Linked DNA regions of Homo sapiens: all the other regions are linked to region 1. The links come from fine-mapping of genetic effects on gene expression. A gene starts in region 1. Each other region holds a variant in brackets. All regions are shown on one strand. Distances are from middle to middle. Region 1 holds the start of AQP11 (aquaporin 11). Region 2 has its middle 3.5 kb from the start of INTS4. Region 3 overlaps NARS2 (asparaginyl-tRNA synthetase 2, mitochondrial).

Region 1 (4,356 bases):
CCAGGCTGGTCTTGAACTCCTGACCTCGTTATCCGCCTGCCTCGGACTCCCAAAGTGCTGCACCTACAATGGGCCACCCCAGGGGACAAGCTGTTGGGACTGGAATGCGGTGGCAAGAGCCGTGCACTCTGGCTGCTGAAACCTGCTGTTTCCACTGTAAGCTACCACTTAGTGAATATTTTCTACGTATTGGGAACTGTACTAAGTGGCTTTCATGTTTTGTTTTTTGTTTGTTTGACTGGTTTGTTGTTGTTGTTGTTGTTGTTGTTGTTGTTTTTGAGACGGAGTTTCGCTCTTGTTGCCCAGGCTGGAGTACAATGGCGCGATCTAGGCTCACCACAACCTCTGCCTCCCGGGTTCAAGCGATTCTCCTGCATCATCCTCCCGAGTAGCTGGGATGACAGGCATGCGCCACCATGCCCGGCTAATTTTGTATTTTTAGTAGAGACGGGGGTTTCTCATGTTGGTCAGGCTAGTCTCGAACTCCCGACCTCCGGTGATCCGCCCGCCTCGGCCTCCCAAAGTGCTGGGATTATAGGCGTGAGCCACCGCGCCCAGCCGCGCCCGGTTTTTGTTGTTGTTTTTGTTTCTAAAAACAGCGTCTCGCTCTGTGGCCCAGGCAGGGGTGCAGTGGCGCGATCTCAGCTCACTGCAGCCTGGAACTCCTGGGGTCAAGCGGTCTTCCCACCTAAGCCTCTCCGTGCTGGGACTCCGGACGCGCTCCACCTCACGCAGCCGTATTCCTGCTTTCAAAGCAGATGGAAGAGGTGCGCCAGGACCCCCAGTTCTTGGAAACAGACCTCTCCAGTTACCTGTTGTTTCCTCTTCACGAAGAGTGCATGTAACAGTAAGACACAACTGTTTCATATTATACGTAAAGAGTTCATGCCAAAGGTTATAGACAGTCACATGCTAAAACTAGGCTACACTTTGAAGAATCACCGCTCAAGTTCTGGAAAAAAGAGGTGACTGTTGAACAACACTGTGAGGGTAATCGATGCCACTGAAATATACACTTAAATTGATTAAAGTGGCGAATTTTATCTGGCATATATTACCACCATTTTTAGAAATGTTTTTTGGCAGGTGAAGAAAAGCAAGGCTCCAGGAGGCCCTGCGCACCGGTCTACGCCCACTAACTCACCCGCCCCCTGCGCCGCGTCTCCCCTCTCAATTTCAGTCGCCCATTGATAAAAACGAGGTGGCTATGTGAGATGGCCTTCAGCGGTCTTTCCAGCTCCACGGTTTTACAGTGTGGAGCGGGGAAAGAAAAACTCTAAGGTCCTCGCTGCAAAGCAACCATCAGAGCTCCGCCGCGCCGTGCCGCTCCTCTCCGCCCCGTGGTCCGGGTGTCACCGCCCGCAGGGGCGCAAGGGCCGCAGCACGCGTGCGCAGTGGGCACCAAGAGCGCTGCGTCGACCGCGCCGCGCCGGCCCTCCGCCGCCGCGCCCGCCTACAAGGCCCTGAGGGAGACTGCGGAGGGTGAGTGCGCGGTGGGCTCGGCTGACCGTTGGCCCTGCGGCCGGCGCCCTAGGCTACCTCCCTTCGCCTCCCCGCGCCTCCCCGCGCCTCCCCGCCTCCCCGCCTCCCCGCCTCCTCGGCTCTGGTTCCAACACCCCAGCGCCAAGCCGGGGAGGCGGGGAGGACTTCTTAAGTGTGCCGCTCGGGAGCCTCCCGCTCGTCCCGCCCCGAGGGGCGTGAGGAGGGGAGGGGCTGCGGACTTCGGACTCGGGCCTGGAGACCGCCTCCTACCCAGAGCCGGAGCCCGCAACCCGCTCAGGCGGCGACGGAGCCATGTCGCCGCTGCTGGGGCTCCGGTCCGAGCTGCAGGACACCTGCACCTCGCTGGGACTGATGCTGTCGGTGGTGCTGCTCATGGGGCTGGCCCGCGTAGTCGCCCGGCAGCAGCTGCACAGGCCGGTGGCCCACGCCTTCGTCCTGGAGTTTCTAGCCACCTTCCAGCTCTGCTGCTGCACCCACGAGCTGCAACTGCTGAGCGAACAGCACCCCGCGCACCCCACCTGGACGCTGACGCTCGTCTACTTCTTCTCGCTTGTGCATGGCCTGACTCTGGTGGGCACGTCCAGCAACCCGTGCGGCGTGATGATGCAGATGATGCTGGGGGGCATGTCCCCCGAGACGGGTGCGGTGAGGCTATTGGCTCAGCTGGTTAGTGCCCTGTGCAGCAGGTACTGCACAAGCGCCTTGTGGAGCTTGGGTCTGACCCAGTATCACGTCAGCGAGAGGAGCTTCGCTTGCAAGAATCCCATCCGAGTCGACTTGCTCAAAGCGGTCATCACAGAGGCCGTCTGCTCCTTTCTCTTCCACAGCGCTCTGCTGCACTTCCAGGAAGTCCGAACCAAGCTTCGTATCCACCTGCTGGCTGCACTCATCACCTTTTTGGTCTATGCAGGTTTGTCATTCTCACCAAATACTTGGCACTTCCAGAGCCTCTATGACATGAGGCTGTAAGTTCTTTACTAAAATACATTTGAAACCGTCTATCCCGCTATGATGTAAATGCTGGTATCCCCGTTATTCTAACCATTTTGCAGCCCGTTCTTAACCAGTAGGGCCGACACGTAGAGCCTTCATGCAGTGCTGCTTTGAACACCCAGAGAAAGGAGCCACCTCTGTGCTGAAACTGAGATACTGTGAGATATTGCCAAGGGTTCAGATATCCTACAAAGGGATTGTTTTAATGGTAGAAAGGAAAGATAACTTATTAACTGCCTCTTTCTTCATGCCAAGGTGGTATAGATCGTTTCGGATACTCTTACTGAAAAATGATCCTGGCTTTACAAAGTTCCTTTCGATTTAAAGCACAAGGCACATGATTGGTTAGTATAAGAGCGGAGGGTAGAAATTTTGTAGTTCCATTTTAGTCCTATAAATGATTTAAAGTCATTTCTTATTTCCTTAATAATTCATTTTGAGTTATGAAATTTCTTATTTCCTTAATAATTCATTTTGAGTTATACATGAACTTTTAAGTGACCTATTAAGAAAAATGTTTAAATGATAACTTGCTTCAAATTAAAGATGCTTTTTAAAATATAACTCTTGAGAAATCTGTTGATTTCTTTTAAACCATTTGTTTACTTTGACAGATCTCAGATGCAGTGGGCAATCTAGTCCTAAGTGGGAGGAGGAAATCCAAAACACAAGTATTTAATGATGAAATGTGTCATTTTAAATGATTACAACAGAATATCTTTATTGGGACTACATCTAAATTATAAAAGACTGTGGAGGCAGAAATAACAACAAAGGAAATTTGTGGTAATAATCTTCTGCCCATTAAAAGTGAAACAATGACTAGAAGCAAACTTCAAGATAAGGACTCCTAAACACGTACTTGACCTTCTAGGGTAAAAATGAAAGCCTTCAGCCGGGCGCGGTGGCTCACGCCTGTAATCCCAGCACTTTGGGAGACCGAGGTGGGTGGATCACCTGAGGTCAGGAGTTTGAGACCAGCCTCGCCAACATGGTGAAACCCCGTCTCTACTAAAAATACAAAAAAAATTTAGCCAGGCATGGTGGTGGGCGCCTGTAATCTCAGCTACTCGGGAATCTGAGGCGGGAGAATTGCTGGAACCCGGGAGGCGGAGGTTGCAGTGAGCTGAGATCGCGCCATTTTACTCCAGCCCAGGCGACAACAGTGAGACTCTGTCTCAAAAAAAAGAAAGAAAGCAAGCCTTCCCAATCAATTTCCCCTTCTTTAGGTCTAGTACCACTTTTTAAGTAGACATAAATGGAAATAAGTGGTATAGAAGAGTGAAGGGGGCCGGGCACGGTGGCTCACACCTGTCATCCCAACACTTTGGGAGGCCAAGGCAGGTGGATCGCTTGAGCCCAGGCGTTCGAGACTAGCCTGGGCAACATAAGAGAAATCCCATCTCTCCAAAAAATACAAAAATTAGCCGGGCGTGCTGGTGCGCACTTGTAGTCCCAACTACTTGGGAGGCTAAGGTGGGAGGATCACCCAAGTCCAGGAGGTTGAGATTGTGGTGAGCTGTGATAGTGCCACTGCACTCCAGCCTGGGTTATAGAGACCCTGTCTGTCTCAAAAGAAAAAAAAAAAGAAAAAGAGAAAAAGAGTGACAAGTACAGGCATATTTGAGGGATTGGTGGGTAGTTGCTTATTTATTGAAGTTTTAGATTTTAGCTAAAGCAGAAACATCCCCTGTATATGAACAGAATTGTCACTGCAAAAAGAGTTATGCTATGGTTTAGCTCTTTATTTCTACAATTAAAAGCAGTAAAAACTTAAAAAAGAATTTTTACATCAATAGAACATTAACTACAGTTGGATTTTTCAATACCTATGTTCCTCTTCCCTCTCTTGATTAACCT
Region 2 (4,356 bases), 410 kb after region 1:
TGAGAAGACAGACACCCAAACTGATGGTGACAGTGCAACTGAAATGTGCTGGGTAACGGGAATGAATGTGGTTCAAACAGACCTAATTTCTTCAGAGTGCCTCAGGGAAGGCTTTCCTAAAATTAGAGGAAACTGGGAGTGGTGGCTCACGCCTATAATCCCAGCACTTTGAGAGGCCGAGGCGGGCAGATCACCTAGTTCAGAAGTTTTGAGACCAGCCTGGGCAACATGGCGAAATCTACTTTAAAAATACAAAATTTAGCTGGGCATGATGGTGGCCCACGCCTGAAGTCCCAGCTACTCTGGAGGCTGAGGCGGGAAAATCGCTTGGGCCTGGGATGTGGAGGTTGCAGTGAGCCGAGATCCAGCCACTGCACTCCAGCCTGGGCAACGGAGTGAGACCCTGTCTCCAAAAAAAAAAAAAAAAAAAAAAAAGGCTGGGCGCGGTGGCTCACCCCTATAATCCCAACACTTTGGGAGGCCGAGGCAGGCGGATCACCTGAGGTCGGGAGTTCGAGACCAGCCTGGCCAACATGGTGAAACCCCGTCTCTCCTAAAAATACAAAAACTAGCCGGGCGTCGGGGTGGGTGACTGTAATCCTAGCTACACGGGAGGCTGAAGCAGGAGAATCGTTTGAACCCAGGTGGCAGCGGCTGCAGTGCGCCGAGATCGGGCCTCTGTACTCCAGCCTGAGCAACAGAGCGAGACTCTGTCTCAAGAAAAAAAAAAGAAAAAAAAAGGAAACTATTTCTAATGCAGCTTTAAAAGAATGAGTTTTTCCAGAAACAAAGGCATCCCAGACCGCCGAGATAAGATATACAAATATGTCAAGGGAAATGAAAAACATTTAGCAAACAGTACCTTTAATAAAGCTTAGCTGCTATTATTACCATTATCATATTCTATCAAATCTAAGCTGCCAGCAATTGTAAAATCAATATTTTATTTATTATGTTAAGAAAAGAAATGCTGAAATTAAATACAATGGTTTCTAATTGCTTAGATTTGTTATGTATACTTACAGAAACAGCTCTTTTTAACTTATTTAGACATAGATTTGTATCTTACCTCGCACTGCTGTTTCCATGTCTTCCTGTGCACATAAGAACTTTTTAATGCCAAATTATAGGGTAATCTATTTGGAGATATATTTAATAGTAATTTAAAATAACACATGTAATTCCAAAATTGCACAGAGCTCAGTCGAAGCGATGACACCATGAACTGCTACGACTCAGTATACATATGAGCGATTGGCCAACATCTCCTGATTTCGGAGACATTAAATGTGCATCATAGCATCAATGATACAGAGTATTATCATCGTTATTAAATACATGGCGGCCAGGTGCGGTGGCTCACACCTGTAATCCCAGCACTTTGGAAGACCAAGGTGAGAGGATAGCTTGAGCTCAGGAGTTGGAGACCAGCCTGGGCAACATGGTGAAAACCTATCTCTACCAAAAATACAAAAAATTAGCTGGGCGTGGTGGCATATGCCTGTAGTGCCAGCTACTCGGGAGGCTGAGGTAGGAAGATTGCTTGAGCCCGCTTGGCAGAGATTGCAGTAGCTGAGATCGCACCACTGCACTCCAGCCTGGGTGACAGAATGAGACCCTGTCTCAAAATAATAAATAAATAAATAAATAAATAAATAAATGGCTTTAGGAAGGAGTTTGGTGCATTCCGAAAACCAAAGGAACTTCAGTTCATGTTGAAAGTTAAGTGCATGCAGGGAACAGAAGAAGCAATAAAAATAAAGTTGAGGCCAGGCATGGTGCCTCATGCCTGTAATCCCAGTACTTTGGGAGGTGGTAGGTGGGAGGATCCCTTGAGCTCAGGAGTTCCAGACCAGTCAGTGCAACAGAAAGAGACCCTGTCTCTATATTTTAAAAAAAAAAAATTTATATGGAGTTTATCTCTGTCACCCAGGCTGCAGTGCAGTGGCACAATCGTGGCTCCCTGTAGCCTCGATCTCTGAGGTTCAAGCGATTCTCCTGCCTCAGCCTCATGAGTAGCTGAGATTACAGGCATGCGCCACCACACCCAGCTAATCTTTTTGCATTTTTAGTAGAGACAGGGTCTCACCATGTTGCCGAGGCTGGTCTCAAACTCCTGACCTCAAGTGATCTGCCCACCTCGGCCTCCCAAAGTGCTGGGATTACAGGCATGAGCCACCACGCCTGGCTATATAAATTTTTTTTAAATTATAAATAAATAAATTTGAGAAGTTGGTATAGCCAACTTCTCAATGAGCCAGATTGGTATAGAAACAAGAACACACATTCTTTAATGTTGAATTGAAAAACCGTCTTTATTGTATTGATGCCATTTTCCTTTGACTTTTATTATTACTTATGAAAA[T/C]ACATTAAGGTTCACCTGTGAATGAATCCGTGAGGCTTCAGTCTTCTCTCTCTCTTGCATAACAGCAGCCCAACTTAGTAACTTCTTCTCTACCTGCTGGTTCAGAACAAGAGCCCCAGTGGTCTGGGGACAGTCTCATTACATGTCCAATGTAATGAACAATGACTATGTTCTCTAGGGCAACTGTTCCTCCCTTGGGGAGTAAGTCTTCCAAACCTACTGAGCCCAAGAATTCATAAATGAATTATTAGGTGTAAAAGAGAGAGGAACTGCTCCTATCTCCACCCTTTGATAACCAGACCCATGTTCTAACTGTGGGAGAAGCAGTACTATATTTTAGCTGTTGGTATAAGGCATATGCCACAAACAGCGGCCCAAACTCACAATGTGTTGGCTCTTGACTAGCGCTATAACTGAATCTCCAAAAGGTTATTATTCTGCTTTATTATAGCACCTACATCTGAATGATGGGGTTCCTGGCAAGACCAAGAAGTTTCTTCACTACAATTTTCTCAGCATAAAATAAGCTCCTTAATCAGAAGCAATGTGTGGAGTACTATGATAATGAATGAGGCATCCATAGATGATGGAGCTGGCAGAAATATTGCAGGCAGGGAAGTCAAATCTGAATTTGGAATATGAATCTATTCCTGTGAGGACAAATCACTGCTCCTTCCATGATGGAAAGGATCCAGTGTGTAGTTGAATGATTGCAAAAAAAGCCCCAAATCTCCCCCTCTCGGTATGTATACCCCTTGAAGTGTGACTTTGAAGGTGCTTTTATTAAGAGATGAAATCTATATTATCACCCTTTGAATTTGTGCTGGCCTTGTGACAGGCCAATACAATGTGGTAGAAGTGACAGCGTGCTAATTTTGAGTCTAAGCCTCAAGGTCCACCCACATACAATTTCCCAGACCTTTTGTTTGATTTTGGACCCCCACCATTGCCATGACAGCAAATCCAACCTGGCCTGCTGAAGAGTGAGTGACCACATGGAACACAGGCAAATTGACCCACCTGAAGCCATCTGAGACCGGCTCCGCCCCAGCTAATCCACCAGCTGACTACAGATGTATGCGTGATCTCAGCTGAGACCAGAACTGCCCAATCTGTAGGCCTGTGAGAAATAATTAATAGCTGTAGTCTTAAGTCATTACATTTGGGGGTAGGAAATTGTCACACAGTCAGGCACTCCCTAAGCGCTAAGTTAAGTTGCCACACTTCATCTGGTAAGGAGACAACAAGCCCAAATGATTTAGGCAGTTGATTATTCACAGCATAGCAGGTGGCATGAACTCCAAATTTGTTTCAGTTCTCCTTGCCAACCAAGCACCATGGCAGTTATACAGGTGAATGCCATGCACACAATAGATCTGTAACAGCTGAGAACACTGAGCTTAGGAACTTCCCATTCTTGAAAGAGGACTGCTGAGAAACTTGTCCTCTGGAGGCAGACTTTATTATACTGGTCAGGAAACAAATCTGCCTTCCACCCCATGGGGGACATTTTTTTTTATCACTCTGAAATGTTTCCAGGATTTGAGGACCATATTAGCTTTATTACCCTGGAATATAAGTAAATCTGCTCCCTGCTCCTAAGCAGCTTTGCAAACATCCTCAAACAAAGCTGTTGATGCCATTTGCTCAGAAACACCAGAATTTTTCCCAGCAGTTTGCTAACTGATTTGCAGTGCAATAAACCTCCCACCAAGAAGTGCCTGGTACCCTCTGAGAATAATACCATATCAGGGGCTTAGTGTTGGTCTCTCTCTACTATTGGCAGGTTGGACATACATCAGTGGCTAGATTAGCTTTGGTGAGAGGAAGTCTGTACTGTGCAGCCCATGAATAGCCTCTATCCCTGCCATTATGGCAGGGATTTTTGTTCATGTCTCCATCGAGCAAGCACTGAGCTGCTGGGGAAAGAGGCTGGCTGACATCCACAGGTTGGATCATTGTGCCCTTGATTTTTGAGACCCTCTTCTAGA
Region 3 (4,000 bases), 870 kb after region 1:
CCTTCCCCAATCCATTCTATATGTCAGGTTAATTTTTTCATCTTGCCAGTATCTTAGAATACATACAATGCCTCTCTGTTTTTTACTGGATAAAGCCCAAGCTATCTGTAACACTCCAATCTCTCCATAATTGTTCCTATCTTGTCTAGCCATCTTTATCACCCAATAATTCCTTACTCCATTATTTTTATAGCATAGAATTTTAATTTTTAAAGCAATTTTAAAAACATTTGTTCATCTGATTTCCACAACAAACCTGTGATGATACAAGTGTGTAATTCCCTTTTAAAGTAAACTTAAAGTATAAAATATGTGTAAAAAGTACACAAATAACTAGTATACAGTTCTATAAATTTTCACAAACACACCATGAAGCACCATACGGATCAATAAACTGAACAATAGCAGTACCCCAAAAAAGTCCTCCTAAGGTCTTCTTTTAGTTACTACCCCTACCAAAAGTAACCTCTTTCCTGACCTCTATCACCAGAGATTGACTATGATCCCCTGAGAATACTGAGGACAAGAAAGATCAAGTGGTATATCCAGGAACAAAACCCAAGTCTCCTGGCTCTAAGTCCATAGCTCTTCCTGCCACCCCACACAAACTCTTCACTCCCAGAAAGATCAGGATTCTAATGAAGCTGCCATATATGCTGTATTTCTGCCTTTACAGCCTAGCTTCAATACCTGCTAGCGGTGTGATTTTGCATGAGTGACTATACTGCTGCACTGAGAGGTAGCAGCCTCATCTGTAAGAAAGGGATAAAAGTTAATTATCGGCACATACTCGATAAACATTATTGTTTTCTCTTTTGAATGTTTTAACGTTATGCTTGCCACACGGGTACTCAATAATAGATGTCAATTTGGAACGTCAAAAATTTAATCTTTGTTAATCTTTTCTTCCATTTTCCTCTGTCTACCATGTTTTAAGTAATCTCTAATCTTACAAAGTTAATCTTATTTAGTTAAGTGAGACAATATAAATAATTTCTCAACTCCCTAAATGTCTTTTCCTTGCTACTTTTAATAATGAAGATTCCTCGACACTCTTACTCTACCAAAAGACTTAGGAGGCATTTACGTTCACTTTTATCTCAGTTGCTTTAACCAAACTTGTTCAATTAAGACACACTGGGAAGACTGAAATGGGAGAAACAGTTTGGTAACAAAACCTTAGAAGTCTGTATCACACACATAAAAGGATTTCTCTTCCCTATGTTCCCTAACTCTACAATTCAAAGTATTAATATAAAATATGTCATGATAAAGAATCTCAAAGTATTTTACGACAGACTGAAATGGATACTTTCAATTTTGACAAAAATTTCTAGGATTCTCTTTAGTCCTAGATATGGGGAAAATTGGCAATTCCCTTCATCACTATTTCTGTTGGTTGGTGGCTCGAGCTATTTTGATGCAGGTTGGTTAATTAGCCACAGCTCTGGGAAATTTATTGCACACCCCTTGGCTGAGTATTCTCCTTTCTGAGTTGACTTCACAGTATGTACTTTACTGAATGCCCACTAATGCTGACCTTTCTCTGGTTTGCTAAGTAATACTGATATAATTTTGAAAATTAGAACACTACCTGGTGATTGTGGCATCTCATCAAGGACTGAGGGGCAGTCACTTTTTCCTAATTACACGTGTGTAGAATAAAAGACTATTCTTCTCTGTGAAGCCACTCCCCCAGCTGAACATCTGCCACCTGGCTTTGAGGGACTTACCTGGAGACCAGCCTCAGAGGCATATGGCATTTTGCATATTTGCTTAGATTCATTTTCCCATGATCTGTCCCTTTCAAATGATCAAATATGCTCAGTAATTTATAAGTTAGTCTTATCCATGCATATGAAGAAAAACTTAGGCTACAGGAAATCAGAGAATCTTAGAGAGGTAATACTTTAGAGGTCACTTAATCCAATTCTCTGATTATACAGAGGGAGAAATTGAGGCTGAAAGATCACAGAGACTTGCCTGAGGTGACACAGGTAACTAGTAAGGTATCTAGATTTCAAACCCAGAACCACTCTGCATCCTGTGTACTTTTCAGTACACCACAGCGCATACCTTCATTTCTACTGAGAGGTGGGGAGAAAGGAAGATAAATTATAACTGTAAAAACATACCATTTTACTATTTATTACCCTCTGGCCAAAAGTTACAAGTGTAGATTAGATATTTCCCCATCCTTCTCTTTTGGTTCCCTAAAGAAGGCACCTATGAAACACACCTGTCTTATTTTTTTCAAGACTGCACTGCATCCATTACAGGAACTCTTGCGAACTTACAGCCAGTTATTACAGCCCTACTAAAAGAAACAGAATTTAGTCATCTGGCCCAAAGCTTCTTCCTTCACCAGAAAACAACAAATGAGGGATAGAAGCAGGCACTTCATACAAATGGATTGAAAAGAAATGTACACTGCTAATGTACCA[A/G]TGTTATTCTCTATGGCTAATGTAACAAGTTTAAATAAATTATATTTGAATAGTTTAGCTCTGAGAAGCTATATACTCTAGTACTGCATAAATTATGGAAGTATGTTAAAGTCCCAGTATAACGCCTTTAGGGTGTGAGACCACATTACTAGAGAGACTGTGTCATAATGAAGGTTTCCCAGTACTGTTGAAGGTAAGATACTTGTGAGTGCGATCTATGAGAGAACTACCTTTTAAGGAATCTTATGTTATTATGTAACAACACACACACACACACACACACACACACACAAACACACACACACACATTGTACTTTATCATAAGATTTTATCAAAATTTAAAGTCAGGCACAGATAAATATTGCATGTTCTCATTCATATGTGGGAATAAAACATTTTTTGAGCTCATGGGAAATAGTAGAACAGTGTGTAACGGGGGCTTGGAAGGGTGGGGAGAGGTTGGTTAGTAGATACAAAATTATAGCTAGATAGGAGGAATGAGTGCTGGTATTCTGCAGCAATATAGGGTGAATACGGTTAACTACAATTTATTGTATATTTTCAAAAAGGTGGATGAGAGGATTTTGAATGTTCACAACACAAAGAAATGAAAAATGTTTGAGGTGACGAATATGCTAATTACCCTAATTTGATCAGTATTATATACATACACCAAAATACCATTCTATATTCCATAAATACATACAATTATTACATGTCAACTAAACATGAAAGGGGAAAAATTTTATTAAAATTTAGAAAGTAGGAAGAGACAACTTCATACCTATTGACTACCTACTTCCTAAAACACAGCTATCTACTTTTCTTATATTACTTGATTTAATCCTCACAACTCCATAATATATTATGGTCTCATTTTTACAGATCAGGAAATTAAGACACAAAAAGATTAGGTGGCATATGTAAAATCACATAGTTTATAATACACAGAGGTGGGGTGGGGACTTGAACCCAAGAGTGTCTAACTCTATAGCCACTAGACTTTCCTTTATGCTATGTTGCTACCACTCACAAAATTAAAGATGCTTTTTAGCTTCCCAGCAAATTCACAGCAGATCAACTCACTACTCGTCGACAGTGTGTCTTAAACTTTGTTGGATTTGATTCATTAATCCATTCATCCATCCACCACACGGATACTAGGTGTCCACCACGTCCCAGGCATTACACTAGGAATATACCGATGAATGAAAAAGAAGTTGATATGGTTTTGCTGGGTGTCCCCACCCAAATCTCATCTTGAATTGTACTTCCATAATTCCCACTTGTTGTGGGAGATAACTGAATCATGGGGATATTTTCCCCATACTGTTCTTGTGGTAGTAAGTCTAAGGAGATCTGATGGTGGGTTTTTTTTTTGTTTGTTTGTTTGTTTTTTTGAGATGGAGTCTCGCTCTGTTGCCCCGGCTGGACTGCAGTGGTGTGATCTCAGCTTACTGCAACTCTGCCTACTGGGTTCAAGCAATTCTCCTGTCTCAGCCTCCCGAGCTGGGACTACAGGTGCCTGCCACCATGCCTGGCTACTTTTTGTATTT

The links. PIP is the estimated chance that this variant, and not a neighbour inherited with it, causes the effect.
Region 2: its variant is fine-mapped to the expression of AQP11 in whole blood (INTERVAL, PIP above 0.99).
Region 3: its variant is fine-mapped to the expression of AQP11 in whole blood (TOPMed, PIP above 0.99).

What each region holds. Positions count from the first base shown.
Region 1 is chr11:77,588,199-77,592,554 of GRCh38, forward strand. AQP11 (aquaporin 11) reads left to right here and starts at 1,755. Exons shown (of 3, transcript NM_173039.3): 1 at 1,755-2,413. The coding sequence starts at 1,795. RefSeq lists a silencer at 1,102-1,731.
Region 2 is chr11:77,995,949-78,000,304 of GRCh38, forward strand. No RefSeq gene overlaps it. Among named protein-coding and RNA genes, the nearest start is that of INTS4, 3.5 kb to the left of the region's middle. RefSeq lists a silencer at 1,862-2,062. The variant T/C (reference allele first, on the strand shown) is at 2,366.
Region 3 is chr11:78,455,093-78,459,092 of GRCh38, forward strand. All of the region lies in intron 11 of NARS2 (asparaginyl-tRNA synthetase 2, mitochondrial), which reads right to left. Among named protein-coding and RNA genes, the nearest start is that of LINC02728, 27 kb to the left of the region's middle. The variant A/G (reference allele first, on the strand shown) is at 2,445.